2 separate regions of the Homo sapiens genome follow, and region 1 is linked to region 2. A link means that fine-mapping ties the variant in region 2 to the expression of a gene that starts in the linked region. Tissue or cell type: lung. Region 2 holds a variant in brackets; the other region holds the start of a gene. All regions are shown on one strand. Distances are from middle to middle.

Evidence for each region. PIP is the estimated chance that this variant, and not a neighbour inherited with it, causes the effect.
Region 1: it holds the start of VEGFD, and the variant in region 2 is fine-mapped to the expression of VEGFD in lung (TOPMed, PIP above 0.99).

Annotation. Positions count from the first base shown.
Region 1 is chrX:15,381,060-15,389,059 of GRCh38, reverse strand. It overlaps VEGFD (vascular endothelial growth factor D), which reads left to right and starts at 4,647. Exons shown (of 7, transcript NM_004469.5): 1 at 4,647-5,203. The coding sequence starts at 5,114. It overlaps PIR (pirin), which reads left to right. Exons shown (of 10, transcript NM_001018109.3): 10 at 3,944-4,261. The coding sequence ends at 4,056. The region is part of intron 9 of PIR-FIGF (PIR-FIGF readthrough); the gene reads left to right.
Region 2 is chrX:15,408,927-15,416,926 of GRCh38, reverse strand. The region is part of intron 6 of PIR (pirin); the gene reads left to right. The region is part of intron 5 of PIR-FIGF (PIR-FIGF readthrough); the gene reads left to right. Among named protein-coding and RNA genes, the nearest start is that of VEGFD, 29 kb to the right of the region's middle. The variant T/C (reference allele first, on the strand shown) is at 3,923.

The DNA.
Region 1 (8,000 bases), 28 kb after region 2:
AATTAGGTGACAGATCAAAGGAGTGGGACTGCTCAAAGCCACCCTACACTGGGGTCATGTGGATCCTCTCCCAGTGGCTTGGAACACAGGGACACTAGGTATGCCTGCACATACAAACTCGGAGTAATCAGACAAAATAAATATGTCCCTTGAAAGTTCAGTTACTGAGAAGCAAAGCATTTTGTTTTTATTTTTTAACTTTTAAAAACTCAGACATTTAAGTTTTTCTTTTACTTATGTGTGTTTAAAGGCAGCCACAACCATCTCTTGATTGGGAACTTGCACAGATCTCATGAATTACCTAAGACCCTTTCTCCTCTTATCATCGTGTGTCCTTAATTATTCATCCACAGATTAAGCACAGGAAATCATAGAATGTTAGGATAGAAAATAACCTTAGCCATGATGTAGTCATGCCTCTTTTATAGATGAGGAAAATAAAATCCAGATATTTTATTTATTTACTTAATGGATGCTTGCATAGAATTTACTATTTCCTAGACATTGGTTAAAGCACTTTCCTAATGTTAATCCGTCTAACCTTCAAAACAACCCTATGAGGTTGGTACTCTCATGCCCATTTTACAGATGAAGAAGCAGAAGGTCAAAGGTTCATTGGCTTACTCAAGGTCACATAGCTGGATTCACACTCAGGCTGTCTGTTTTCCAAACACCCTGCCCTTCTGCCTCTTACCATGCTGGTCGTCCATTGCTCTGCCCTGTAGCTTCTCTAATGGAAAGCGATTGTTAGCAGTGGAGCTGGGACTCGAACCCTAGTCTCCTGACCCCATGTCTTATGTTCGCTCCACTATACCAAAGTTCTACATAACAAGAGGTTAGACACACCATTTTATACAAGAGGGGGGCTTCAGAGGCTTAATTAGAGAAGTGATGAAAGCTATAATTTGAAAGAGAATTATAGGTAACTATCAAATAATTTTCTTGTTCACAACCCTTGTAGTTGATCAATTTAAAAACATGCTTTCTGGATTCAGTTTTCTCCTTGAAGATTTGAGGAGATAAGCTTCATCAGTTAGCTTTAGGGGACTCTAAGCTTCCAATGCTTCCCTGTATAACAGAGGTTATACTTGTTTCCTAAAGTGTGGTCCATGGACCAGCAGTATCAGCATCACTTGGGAGATAGTTAGAAATGCAGAATCTCAGGCCTCACTCCAGACCTCCTGAATCAGAATCTGCATTTTAATAAGATTCCCAGCTGATTCATGTGCACGTTATAAATTGAGAAACATGGCAGACTACCCCAGAAAGTGTCAAAATGGAAGCCTAGAAGCACACCATTCTTACAGAAAACAGTTGGGGGATGGGAGTACTGCTCCACAAGTCCCAACCATAGCAAAATTATGAGGCACAAGAATTTGGTCCTTGACTCAGTACCTGCTCCCATCTTCCAAGTTGCATTTCCCTTTCCCCTGCGTGTCCTTTAAAAAGTTGTCTTCCCCAGGGTACCCTCTTGGGTTTATTGTTTATTCTGCATATGTTAACTCTCTTTTTCTTTCCTACCTGATATAGTCCAAACCTCCATTTCCAGATGAAATTTCTCTCATGAGCTCCAGATCCATAGTTTCAACAATGTACCAAAAACCTCTGCTTGGGAAACCACTTTATTGTCTCTAGTACTTCTATGTTAAAATACTCAGAACTGGGCCGGGCGCGGTGGCTCATGCCTGTAATCCCAGCACTTTGGGAGGTCGAGGCTGGCAGATCACTTGAGGTCAGGAGTTTGAGACCAGCCTGGCCAACATGGTGAAACCCAATCTCTACTAAAAATACAAAAATTTAGCCGGGCATGGTGGCACGTGCCTGTAATCCCAGCTACTGGGGAGGCTGAGGTGTGAGAATTACTTGAACCCGGGAGGCGGAGGTTGCAGTGAGCCAAGATCGCACCACTCACCACTGCACTCCAGCCTGGGCGACAGAGCAAGACTCGGTCTCAAAAAAAAAAAAAAAAAAAAAAAAAAAAAAAAAGAAAAGAAAAGAAAAACAAAACAAAAAATATCCAGAACTGAACACCTTGCTCCATCCAAAGCCTCCCACGTCCTGTATCTCAAATACCCTTAACAATTCCACCATTGACTCAGCCTCCCAAATTAGACACCTGCTCTTCTACCTTGATGCCAAAGTCTTCTTTAAAAATTATAAATCATATTATATTACTCCCTACTTAACCTTACAGTGATTCATAATCACCTGCAAAAGTAGGTCCAAACTTCTTCCTGTAGATTGCATCCAAAGCCCAGAAGGGTCTGGTTTCTTCCTATATTTCAGATCGCCATTTTTTCCGCCTTTGATCCCTCCTTCCACCACTGTACCCCTATCCCCTCCAGTATTCCTCCAGCATACTAAGCCTGAACATGCCTTTCCTCCGTGTGTGACTGCTCAAACATCACTCCCTCTGTGAATCCTTTCCTGGATTTCTCCTCCTCCCCCTTTCTGTGTTGATTTTATAGTTTTTACACTTTTATCCTTCCATATTTCAAACAGTTTTGTAATGATTTCTTTTCATATCTGTGTGATAGATTTGAATCCTTGAGGAGAGGGAGTCTGCCATTTATTTGTCTTTCATCTTTATGTCTCTAGCTTCTAGCACAATGTCTGTCATTTAATGGGCATTCAGTACATAATAGATAGGTAATTGAATGAATGGATTTAGATGCCTGGGTGTTTTCTTTCTACTTGTATTCTATTCCCCACATCCTCTCCAAAGATTTCAGCATCATCAAGACATATTATCCTGTGTCTTCCTTCTGAAGATTTAAATTATAGTGATCACCAAATCCATGTTGATATGATAACAATGGTTAAGAAGTTTGAATATGTTATTTTCTCTAAGCAATACAGTTGTATATTAATCAGAATCTCCCAGAGAAAGCCCCTTAGAGCAGGCAGTTCCATAAAAGGAATGTCAGGAACTTCTGCAGGCTGGATGAGGACATACACTGAGTGAACAAGTCTGTCAACTGCTCTAAAGACACTGTCAATGCCATATAAAAGCTGGCCTTGTTCATCTAGCAGATCATGGGGGTGAGACAGTCCAGTGCCTCTCTGCCCCTACAATATATGAAGAAAGGGGAAGAAACACACATTGCCTCCTGGTAGATTAGGGGAGGACTTCTTGTACATTTTTAGCAAAATCCGAGTTCAGACCCAGCAATTAGACAAAAGGGTCAGCAAACTATGGTCGATGGGCTACATCTGCCCACTGCATGTTTTTGTAAATGAAGTTTTATTGGGACACAGCCATACCTATTCACTTTTGCATTATCTATGGCTGCTTTTGCACTTTGATGAAAGAGTTGAGTAGTTGAGACAGACACTGTTTGACCCACAAAATCTAAAATACATACTATCTAGCCCTTCCTAGCAAACATTTGCCAACCCCTAGAAAACTTTTAAAAAATGATGCTCTTCGACTTGAAATTTTTATAATCTTCTGTTTATTGTCAATAGGTGCTGCTGATTTTCAAAAAATGACTTAGAATCCTCAAATAAGTATACAGCCTTATATGCTGCTTAGACACCAAAGCTATGATAAGATTTGTCAGTTCTTTGTATCAGATGGGTTCAATTCTTGACATCAGCTAATGTTATAAAAATAACTACAAAATTGGTTGTAATAGAACCAAATCTAAGACTCTTTTTAATAAAAAAGATCACCATTGCTGGTGAGAAACCTATACTGAATGGGTGAGATGCCATTGCATTTATCTGAAGTTTCGTCTTTATAATCAATAATCATATACAATCCTAGTCAAGAAACTCATCTTACAGTCCTTGGGGATTGAACACTGTGAAAATAAACTTTTACTCTTCGGATGTGCTTGGATTTTGTTTTAAATTAAGAACTACAGAAATATATATCATTTCTAGTGGTAGAGGAAAATATTGCCACCCAGAACTTTCTGAATGTCTCTTTCTGCCCTAGGTCCATTTGTGATGAACACCAATGAAGAGATTTCTCAAGCTATTCTTGATTTCAGAAACGCAAAAAATGGGTTTGAAAGGGCCAAAACCTGGAAATCAAAGATTGGGAACTAGTGGAAAGCGGAAGAGCAGGTCTTGATGTGTCCTAGAATTTTGCCATTTCTGAGATTGAGCCATTGAAGGCATTCCATTTCTAAAGCTTATTTAGCCGGTGCTTCTAAAGAATTCCACACTAACGTGATAACATGGTTTTTGTAACAATAAATGTAGGATATTTCCTGGCACATGCAAATAAACCTAATCATTGTTTCTTTAAAAATCAGTGTTTTTCATTTGAGATACCTAAGTTACTAAGCTTCTGTTTAAAAAGTCGTTTTGTGTATGTTTGCCTTTTTTTGCATGTATGGATGGATGTTTTTATTATTTTTGTGCATGTGCAGGTTTTAAAAATCATATTTGATTGCTTTCTGTGTGTCATTGGCAGCAGATGCATGAGCATCTGAGGTCCCTTCTTAAGCAATCCCACTGAGATACAAAGGTCAAAGCTATGTGCTGGGGTTTCATGTTACAGGTTATCTGCTTTAAAATAACGGCAGCCCTGAACATTTGAGTCAGTTCTTAAAACTGCCCTGCTATTGGTAGGGACGCAACAGGATTACAGCCAAGACTTCTCTGCATTTTCTGCCAAAATCTGTGTCAGATTTAAGACACATGCTTCTGCAAGCTTCCATGAAGGTTGTGCAAAAAAGTTTCAATCCAGAGTTGGGTTCCAGCTTTCTGTAGCTGTAAGCATTGGTGGCCACACCACCTCCTTACAAAGCAACTAGAACCTGCGGCATACATTGGAGAGATTTTTTTAATTTTCTGGACATGAAGTAAATTTAGAGTGCTTTCTAATTTCAGGTAGAAGACATGTCCACCTTCTGATTATTTTTGGAGAACATTTTGATTTTTTTCATCTCTCTCTCCCCACCCCTAAGATTGTGCAAAAAAAGCGTACCTTGCCTAATTGAAATAATTTCATTGGATTTTGATCAGAACTGATTATTTGGTTTTCTGTGTGAAGTTTTGAGGTTTCAAACTTTCCTTCTGGAGAATGCCTTTTGAAACAATTTTCTCTAGCTGCCTGATGTCAACTGCTTAGTAATCAGTGGATATTGAAATATTCAAAATGTACAGAGAGTGGGTAGTGGTGAATGTTTTCATGATGTTGTACGTCCAGCTGGTGCAGGGCTCCAGTAATGAACATGGACCAGTGAAGGTAGGTGAGCTCAATTTTTAATGTGATGAAGTTCTTTTTATTGGCTCATACAGAGGACTTTCTTTGCCCTCACTATTTTTGAAACAATATAAAAATGCAGAACCATCCTAGTAGTGGACTGGACAGGATATATCCTGCATTTCTTGGTGACTGTTCTGTTTCTTAGTCTTATTAAACTTCTGGCCATGAGTATTTGAAAATGCTGGGGTGGGGGTTGGTTGTTTTTTGAAGTTATGGTAGAACATGAGCAGTCTGGAATCTTTTTGGATGGAGAAGTTTCTCCTCGGTTGCATATGCAGATGGCACAGTGGTTTTTTAATGAAACATTGATTTGTTTTTATGACTGATAACTTTGTGGGCCATTTATTTTCAGGTCTTTGTGAGCAGCAGAGGTTAGTTTATTCGTTTGGTAAATTGAAAATTGCAGTGCTTTCTATGAACATTTTCTATCTGCTTTTGCAAATTACCAATTGCTGCCATCCAGAAAAATGTTTTCTCAGAGAGTGTTTGGTTTTTTCGCTTCTTGAAAGGTGTAAAATTCAACACTAATCAAATCTTTGGTTCTGTGAGCAAGCATCAAATAGAGCTTAACGAACAGAGAGTAATGCAAAAAATTAACCAGAATGTTGCTGACTGCTGGAACAATACTTAGCCCAATTTTATGCATTTCATGGATTATATATATTTTAAGCTTCTATTTTGAAAATGATTCGGATGTAATTGTTTTGACTGAAGTGGTGCTAAATCATTATTGATTTAGGAACTTCTGGCCTTGAAAAGACAATTAAATGTGAGTTTGAGTTTTTGTAGCTGTTGTTTAGGACGTGCATTTTCAACAGGGGTGATATCGCCCCCAGCAGGGGAAAATTGGTTCGTGGAGGGATGAAAAAGTTTTACCCTTTTGATACATCACGCACAGACGTACATACAGTACATATGGTATGTAGTTTAAAATACGTTATACATTCAAATTGCATAGGGGGAAAGTGTCTTCAAAGGCTCCTGGCTGGTGTTGGTGGCCTGGCGAGGGTGGGGGCTGATATTTAAAAATGTTGAACACTGAGCTGGAGGTGAGTGGGAAGTCACCTTGTCTGGCAGCCAGCACTTTTCTAACTTCTCAAATTCCAAATTTACATGGGAGAAATCACAGTGTTTGGCTCCATTTTACTGCCACCAGCCTTGATATTGGATCTCAAGGCCAGATTGTAGGTAAATGGGAATCTGACTGTAAGCATAGGTAACAGGAGAAAACGGTCTGACTTGTTTGAAGCAAGTAAGACTTTTCCGACTGTCCAGCTTTTTCGTAAGTTCATGAAACAGAAATCCTTTAGATGTGCTGGGCTCCTCGAGTTTTAAAATATTTCCATTTTCCTTGTAAAACATCACTTTATCTGATGGTATAATAAAGGAGACTGAATTGTTGGACATAAGTCATATTCTTTAGGTTGCTCAGCTCTTTCAAAGAGCACAAGCACCAAGAATGTCTCAGGTGTCCTGGGCACTGTGAAGTTTTATTTATTTATTTATTTATTTATTTGAGACGGAGTCTCACTCTGTCACCCAGGCTGGAGTGTAGTGATGCAATCTCAGCTCGCTGCAACCTCTGCCTCCCGGGTTCAAGTGATTCCCCTGCCTCAGCCTCTCGAGTAGCTGGAATTATAGGCACGTGCCACCATGCCGGGCTAATTTTTTGTATTTTTAGTAGAGACAGGGTTTCACTGTGTTAGCCAGGATGGTCTCGATCTCCTGACCTGATGATCTGCCCGCCTTGGCCTCCCATAGTGCTGGGATTACAGGCGTGAGCCACCGCGCCCGGCTGGCACTGTGAAGTTTTAAATGCTTTGAATGTACTGTTAATATATAAATTTGTTGAATGGAGTAACGAAGGAAAGCAGCTGAATTTGCATGTGACAGAAAACAAGTTGTTACACGTGGAGGATGCAGCATTATATACTTACTAATACGATTAGCAATTTTTTTTCAGAATATATCAGAATTTCCTTTAAAAAGTGAAGCTACATATACTGAACTTATATCCACCCTACCCCTCGCTCAATTAAATTATTTCTGATATGAAGGAAAGGATTGCCTATAGCTAAACAGAAGTTTTGGCATAGATATGACTGAGTGGTAAGGGATAATGAGATATATAATATTGGTTATAGTTTTCTTTTTTCCCCAACTTTTAAGAAAAGAAAATCTAAGAGGAAATAATGTTTCTAAATGTTAAAGTTCTTCTTGTTAAAATTAAAATGTAGTGTGAAAACATATTCATGGTGGTAATGGTTTAGGGTGGTGGTATTTGAATTTTTTGTTTTTTTTTTTTTACTTTTTGAAATAAAATGTTTTATTTATTATAAGAAATTCATGGTCTTCCTCGGTACTTGGTCCATATGTATTTCTTTCTCCTCACCCTCCCCTCTTCTAACCACCTCTTTTCCAGAATGGATGGTGATGCCAATTTTGCTCCTAGGTTGTCCTCCAGCCACCCCCAGCCCAGTTTTCACTTTCTAGCTTTGAAGATTGTCCAGTTTTCCAGCTTAGACTAGCATTGCCTCTACGATAGTTCTAGGTATCTGTGAAGATTTTTTTTTTTCCTGTAGCAATCATGAAATAGCTACTAGTGCTCTGGACGATTGTGCTTAATGCCATTTGGGTGTAAGGCCTCCTAATTTCATTAGTCTTACCACTTGTGTTTGCAAGGATAGCTGTTTGGAGTCAGCAGTGCATGGAACATGTGAACTGAGACAAATCTGTTTGAAAATCTCAACTTAAGATTTCAAATCCACTGTGTATA
Region 2 (8,000 bases):
TCATCTGGGACTGTGGTCATCTCAAGGCTTGACTGGGAAGGATGTGCTTCCAAGCTCACACTCATGTGGTTGCTGGCAGCATTCAGTTCCTCAAGGGTTGCTGGCTAGAGTCTGCTCTCTTGTTTTTGGCCACATGGGGCTCTATATAGGGCAACTCACAACATGGCCTCTGACTTCATCAGAAGGCACAAAGATGAGCAAGTTGGAAGCCAGAGACTTTATGTAACCTAATCTCAGAAGTGACATTGCATCAGTTTTGCTATATTCTACTGGTTAGACGCAAGACTCTAGCCACAGCCCATACTCAGAGAGAGGGAATTATATAGGGCAATACGGGAGGCAGGATCAGGCAGACGTCTTAGAGTCGACCTCCACACTTATGATCTTGGTTGAAAGTACCACACATTTTTCCATATGGTCAATGACTCGAAAACAAGTAGTGATTTTTTTTCTCTCTCTCATTTGTGACTTTTAAAAATGACTGGAGTAAACCTCGAAAAATGCGTAGTGATTTTTTCCACAGGCTTCTTGCCTGTTTTTTCATAGTCTTTCTCTACTTTTAAGGAGAATGCCCCAAACATGAATGATTCATGTAGAATTTTACATTTTGAGTCTTTTCATAGAACGCAAAAGCCGATTTAATTCATGAGTAATTTTTTTGCAGAGCTCTCTACTTCCCAGCAGTACATTAGACTATTCAATCACAGTTCCCTTCATACTTAGAATATATACATAACAGTTATGGATGTAAATCTATAGGTCTTCAGAACAGTGATTAACGTGAATCAGAGCCTGAAATATCAAATTATTCAGGAAGAAGTTTAACATCATTTTCCTTTGACTGGGTTGTCTTTTTCATATTGATTTGTAAGAGCTCTTTATATATTCTGAATACTAGTCATTGTCAGTTATTTGTGTTGCAAATGTCTTTCCTGCTTTTTTTTTTAACCTTTCTATACTATGTTTCTCTATTTTAATAAGTAAAAATGCCTTAAATGTATCAATTGGCTCCTTAATGATTAGTGCTTTCTGTGGCTTCTTTAATCATCTTTCCCTAACTCAAGATCATAAAAATGTACTCTCTACTATAAGTGCTTTGTTGTTTTGCCTTTCATATTGATACATTTATTTCACCTGGAATGGTTTTTTTAATTGTTTTTTAAATTGACTGATAAAATTGTACGTATTTATCTTGTACAACTTGATGTTTTGAAGTATTTATACACTGTGGAATGACTGAATTTAACTAATTAACATACATTACCTCACATAGTTATCATTTTTGTGATAAGAACACTTTATATTCCCTCTCTTAGCATTTTTCAAGAATACAATACATTGTTATTAACTGTAGTCACCATGTTGTACAATAGATCTCTTGAACTTATTTCTACTATTTAACTGAAATTTTGTATCCTTTGATGAAATTGGTTTTCATGTATGGTAAGATACAATTACATTTTTTAAAACATGGTTTGAAACAGAGGAAAAAATGGCAAAAATCCATGATGGAGAATGCCATGAACATTTTAAGGGGTTCACAGTTCACTGAATCATCATATAGTAATAACAATCATTATAGCTAACATTTATTAAATGCCTACTCTTTGCCAGAAACTGCTCTAAGAACCTTCCCTATCCTAAGAATTAACACCTGTAATCCTCACGACCCTGTGAGGTAAGGATTATGATTACCTCATTTTTCAGATGAGGAAACTGAGGTACAAAGAGATTAAGTAACTTACTCAATATCAATTAGTTAGTGAGTAATGGGACTGAGTTTCTGCTAGGACTCTTAACTGCCATCTTGTCCTGCACCAAACAAAAACATGGACCTTTAGTGAACAGTACTCTATTAGTAGTGTCTTGGGCATATTGGTAAATAAATCCAAGATTTTGTACATAGGTTAGAAAAACGACTATTCTTGAAAATTTTAAATGAGTAATATCATCTCATTGTGTTGTGTTTTTCTGTTATGTCACCTTTAGGAGAAAACAGGTTAAATTGATGATCAATGTAAACTAAAAACCTATTCTAAGAATTTAAATATGTTTCAATTTTGGCAGGGGTGTATTTTTTTTCATATTTTACAGGGGCTTTTAAAAAATATTTTTCTCAGGCTGGGCATGGTGGCTCACACTTGTAATCCACACACTTTGGGGGACTGAGGCCAGGAGTTCGAGACAAGCCTAGGCAACAAAGTGAGACTCTGTCTGTAATTTTGAAAAAAGGCCTCTTTCTCTTAAAAACAGTTAGGTGTCCAAATACATCCTGAAGTAATCTTAGGGTTATTTATGACTTTCCCTGCTAATTTCAGGTTTCTATTATTTTTTGAACATGTATTTAATCCTTAAAGTTCTGTATATTTCAGATCTTAATAGTCTATAAACGTGGCTTCAATCTAAGTTCGAATGCCTAAACTAGTTTCTGTTTTAGAGTGCTAAAATAGAATTTTATGATTATGTCTACATTATTTGAATTATTTTCTGATTTTTTTTCTGAGCAATTAAAAATCAGTTGTGAATACTGTGTGTCTGAAGAGGAGACAAGTTCTGTTCAAATAAAACCAAGAAATAGTAGTAGCATATATTACTTTAGTTAAAAACTTTATTAAATGTCTTGATGAGAAAACCTCAATGCATCATTGTGCACTTAGTCTCTAAAGAGCAGGATACAATTATTATGTGTCGATTTTAAACTTTTTTTAAAGAACAGGATAAGCTTCTAGGGCATTCTAATAAGCTTCTAGGGCATTCTAATACATTTGTAGTACTATTGTATTAGCAAGAAAATAATCAGCAGGGTTTGCCCTCCAGCGGGCTAGGCTTCATTCTGGGCATGCAGAAGGCTGTATTCTGAGTTTACATTCTAGAGAGCTTATATTGCTTATATATTTCTCATTCAAAATGTTAAATTTCATTTATTTCTTAGCTTTCCTGTTAGCTTCTGATGCAATGAGTGTTCAGTATTATGAATGTGGACCAAACCATAAGACAGGGTTCTCCTATAGGCTGCAATTGTGCTTACTTAAAATATGGGATCCTGAGGGATGGCTCTTAATGTTATATGCCCATGGCTTATAAACAGCCTGTAGTATGATCGTTCTGTAATGTATAAAGTGCATTCTGAGTCTATTTTATTCTGGAAAACTAACTGTCTCAAGTGTTTTGATGTGTATACCATTTTGTTATATAGTTTGGCATTTTATTATTGGTGTCACTCATCAAATTTGGTAAAACGGGCATTCTCATTTTTTTCCAATGGAATTCTCACAAGTTCAGGTAATAACCTATCTCTCAGATTGTGGAGTTACAAAGTTGACATTTCTTTATCTTGCTGTTTATATTCAGTTATAAGATGGGGGTTAAATGCCTATTCTTGGCAAGCTAGTAGATCTTACGGTGAGCTGTTACTTGCTGTATGATCAGACAACCCAACTTATGTCACCAATTCTAGTCTGCAGTGTTTGGTGGGACACAGACAGCATCCTTAATGCCATGAGGTTCTTGATGAGGACGTTTTGGGAGACGTCGCAAAAATGTAGACTTCTTTTGGGAAATGATGACCCTGCTGAGCTTTGCTCCGCAGTCGAAGAGACTAATTGGCTTGGTGTGAGGTGGGTGCAGCAGGGAGCTTAGGGCCATCTCCATAGCAATGACCCTTCTCTGGCCTGGGTCACAGCCTCATCAGAATTGTGTAACGTCTCCACATGCACAGATTTGAAGGAAAGTGGAAAAAGAAGAAAGGGGCAGGAAAATGAACTGATATTTGTTAAATACCTCCTAAGTGCCTGGCATTGTGTAGAGAAGATTAAAAACATATAACACACATATGTATGTACAGATGTATAAGGACATTTATATATGTTTATACAGACATACAATAGAAACAGTATGTTTGATGTTTCCTCATTAGACTGTG[T/C]TCATCACAACAGCTCTGTGTTATACGTATTCATTCCTTATTTTACAAACCAGCAAAGAGGCTTGAAGAGATGAAGAGTCTGGTCCTAGATCTCCCTGAGGGTGATGCACTGATGTTGAAACAGGAACTTTCTGCCTGTAATGGTGTGTGCTCATTTTTGTTGCTGTTTCATGGTTGCTTAGTTGGTTTGTTTTCCGTGGTTCTCCACAAAGCCTCCTTTAAGGTTTGCTGCTGCGCTTTGTTTCCCCACTCCCCAAGAGAGAGTTGCATGGATAGAATTAAATATGGAGGCGGGGCAGGCAGAGAGGCCATGATACTGGAGAAATGTAGGACCATATTGAGAAGAGTTTGTCTGTCAGAAGTTTGGGCTTGTCCTGGGAGAACAGGGAGCCATTGAAGGATTTTAAGTGGAGATTCTAAAAAGGTGCAATTTACGCGTGTAGAAAATGGATTGGCAGCAACCAGTTAGGGGACTTTTTTTCACCTGTATGGTTTTTATCTTAAAGAAAAGATAGATATGAAATAAGTATGGCAAACATATATGTTCATTATTTCATCCTTTGTGCTCTTCTGAATTAAAAATTAAAGTATTGAAAATAAATGAAAATTCTCTAAATCTGGGAGGGACAGGGATTAGCAAACAATTCAGTCTAACGAAGAAACATCAAATAAACCCAAACTGAGAGGCATTCTATAAAATAACTGGTCTGTACTTTTAATGAAAGAAAAAGACTGAGGAACTGTTTCAAATGAAAGAAGATTAGACATGACAACTAAGTGCAGCGTGTGATCGCAGGTTGGGTCCTGGCCTAGAAATTTATTTCTCCTTTTCCATAAAAAGCATTACTCAGATGACTGACACAATTTGAATATCCGTACATAGATAGTAGCATTGTATCAATGTTAATTTCATAATTTCCATAAGTGCACTATACTTTTGTAAGAAAATATCTTTGTTTTTAGGAAATACATACTGAAAATTATTTCAAGGTAAAGGGGCTACATGTCTGCAAATTACTCTCAAATAGTTCAGAAAAAAAAAGAATGACATATATTTATAGCAAGAAGAATGATAAAGCATATATGTTAACATGTTAGCTTTGGGGGAATCTAGGTGAATGGTGTACAATAATTCTCTGTAGTATTTTTGCAACTTTTTGATATGTCTGAAATTATTTTAAAATAAAAATTAAAAAGAATTTGGTGGAAGGAGGAGCGGGAGGGAAGAACCAGGCAGGTCTGCCTCTTGTCCTAGGAGGCCAGGGTTGAGGTCCTAGATGAAGGAGTTACCTGCCAAAGCTGATGTGGGGACTTCCGGTGGCGGGGGGGAGGTTGCGGGTATGGGAGGAGGATCTTAGGGACCAGGGTTGCTTTGCGGTCTGGCAATTATGTGATCCAGAGTTTGTGAAGGGTTGCAATCTCTCCTTAGCCCAGTTGCCCTTATCTCTGTTAATGGTGTTGGTGTGTCACCAGGCCGTGTTTTTCTATTTTTTCTGCACATACAGGTGTAAGGAATACTTGTAAGTTCATTGGAATAATGAACTCCAAGACTGAGGCAGAAGGAAAATGACCCGGGTTAAGGCAAGGAATGTAGGCTGAGGAAAGCTCTCACTAGGGACGTTTGCAAGAATTAGGAGCCTCTCTGGAAATGAGAGCAACTGCCACAGAAAATGATTTACATATTTTTTAAAAGTTTTGGGTTTTTAATGTTTGGCTAAAGGAGGTCTGACTTAAAATGCGTTGCTGACTTAACTGTCCTAGGAGGCCAGAACGAAAATGTGACCTCCCTCCCAGCTCATTTTATTCATCACTGCCCAAGGGAAGGGAAGAGCTTTTCAGCTGCAAAGAGACAGTAGCTTGCAGACCATATTTGTAGGAGAAAGGAAAATGTAGCAGGGTGTGAACTCTGACAAAGCAATAAAAATTGGGGGATGACATCAATTCTTGGTGCAGGACATAAAAGTGGGAGGAGAGGTGAGGGAAGAAAGAAAGATGAGAAGGACCTGAAAATCTGACAAGAGATCTCTTCTGTGGCTGTTGTTAAACATATAGTAAGCATTCATGAAATTTGGCATTTGTTTTCTTTTGCAGCAAGCTGAAGAAACAAAGCTTAGTGGAAATTAAACAAATTAACAGAAGCAAGTGCAGATGGGCATCATGCTAAAAAGAAAGAAAAAAGTAAATTGCCTTCATTTCTATTCCATGCCCTCTAACACTCTGTGCTTTCCAATCAGCAACATGAGTTGTGTTATTACTGGCAAAGATGGACACTATATCCTAGCAGAAGACTTTTACAAGGAGTAAAAATATATGAACACACTTAGTAAATTGACTTAGGCCATTCCTTTAAGCAAATGTTTGGTCCTTCCAGATCATGTAAAAAGATAAAAAAGGAAAAAAAACAGATCTAGGCAATTATTTGTGGACTAGATTTCTGCTTGAAGGGTGAACAGGAAGCAAAGCAGGTGGAGGAGAAATGAGATTAGAACAATCAAAATGAACTCAAATAAAAGCCTGGTTGAACTATTGAGAGTTTTGAGGTTTTGTCAAATGTGGTAACCACTTTTTAATACCTTTAAACCGTGAATAGAGGATTCGTTGTATAAATTATGACATGTCCTTACAATGGAATGCATGCAGTTTTTCCCAAGGATGAGTTACTTCTCTATGTTTTGACATGGAAAGGTATCCAAAATAGAATATTGAGTTAGTTCTAGTTTTTTTGTTTTGTTTTGTTTTGTTTTGTTTTTTTCCGAGACAGAGTCTTGCTCTGTCGCCCAGGCTGGAGTGCTGTGGCGAGATCTCGGCTCACTGCAACCTCTGCCTCCCAGGTTCAAGCAATTTTCCTGCTTCAGCCTCCCAAGTAGCTGGGATTACAGGCACGTGCCACCACGCCTGGCTAATTTTTGTATTCTTAGTAGAGACGGGGTTTCACCATGTTGGCCAGGCTGGTCTCGAACTCTTGACCTCGTGATCTGCTCGCCTTGGCCCTCCGAAGTGCTGGGATTACAGGCGTGAGTGACCGTGCCCAACCTGAGTTAGTTCTAGTTTTTAAGGAAATAACTTATAGTGCATAAAAGAAAAAAAAAACTGAAAACACAGATACCAAATTGCTAACAATATTTATGTCAGGGTAGGAATGAAGATTGCAGAAAGATTTTCAGTTTAGATGTCCCACACTTTCATATTCTTAAAATATTTTTAAATTAATGTGTTTTTTTATAATCAGAAAAAATGAAGCTATTGGTGCTCTGAAAAAGAAAAACAATTGTGGCGAAACTTTTGAAAAAGCAGAGAAGAAAGGGGTTTGGTTGTAGAGTATGATTACAAGTCAGGCTAAATAGAAGTAGAAAAGCTCAGCATTCATTAGAAAACAAAGAAAGAAGTGCTCCAGCAGAGCCAGCCCATCCAGATAAGACATGGGATCTGGCTGTAAATTATTAGTGTGTGTTTTCAGCATCTACCATGGACCTCCCCCCGCCAAAGGTGCACAATTTGCACACCCCGGCTATGCCTTATTCATTTTTGTATCTTCCTCTAAAGTACATGCCCATGGTAGATGTTCAGTAAATGATGGTAGACAAAGCTCGGAAGACTAAATATGAGTGGGTTAAGATGGGAGAAAAACGCCTGTAATCCCAGCACTTTGGGAGGCCGAGGCGGGTGGATCACGAGGTCAGGAGATCGAGACCATCCTGGCTAACATGGTGAAACCCCGTCTCTACTAAAAATACAAAAATTAGCTGGGCATGGTGGCGGGCGCCTGTAGTCCCAGCTACTCGGGAGGCTGAGGCGGGAGAATGGTGTGAACCCGGGAGGCGGAGCTTGCAGTGAGCGGAGATCGCACCACTGCACTCCAGCCTGGGCAACAGAGTGAGACTCCGTCTCAAAAAAAAAAAAAAAAAAAAAGGGAGAAAAACGAGTAAGCTATGAATAAGTAACATTACTTTCAGAGAGCTTAAACTCATTCTAGTAAAATCTCAGAGAGGAAAAACTGTGAAATAGGGGGATGGGAAAATATTCTCTGGCACTTGCTCATGTGTGTTTGTTTTGCCATCCTTCAGATTTTCTTAGTGAG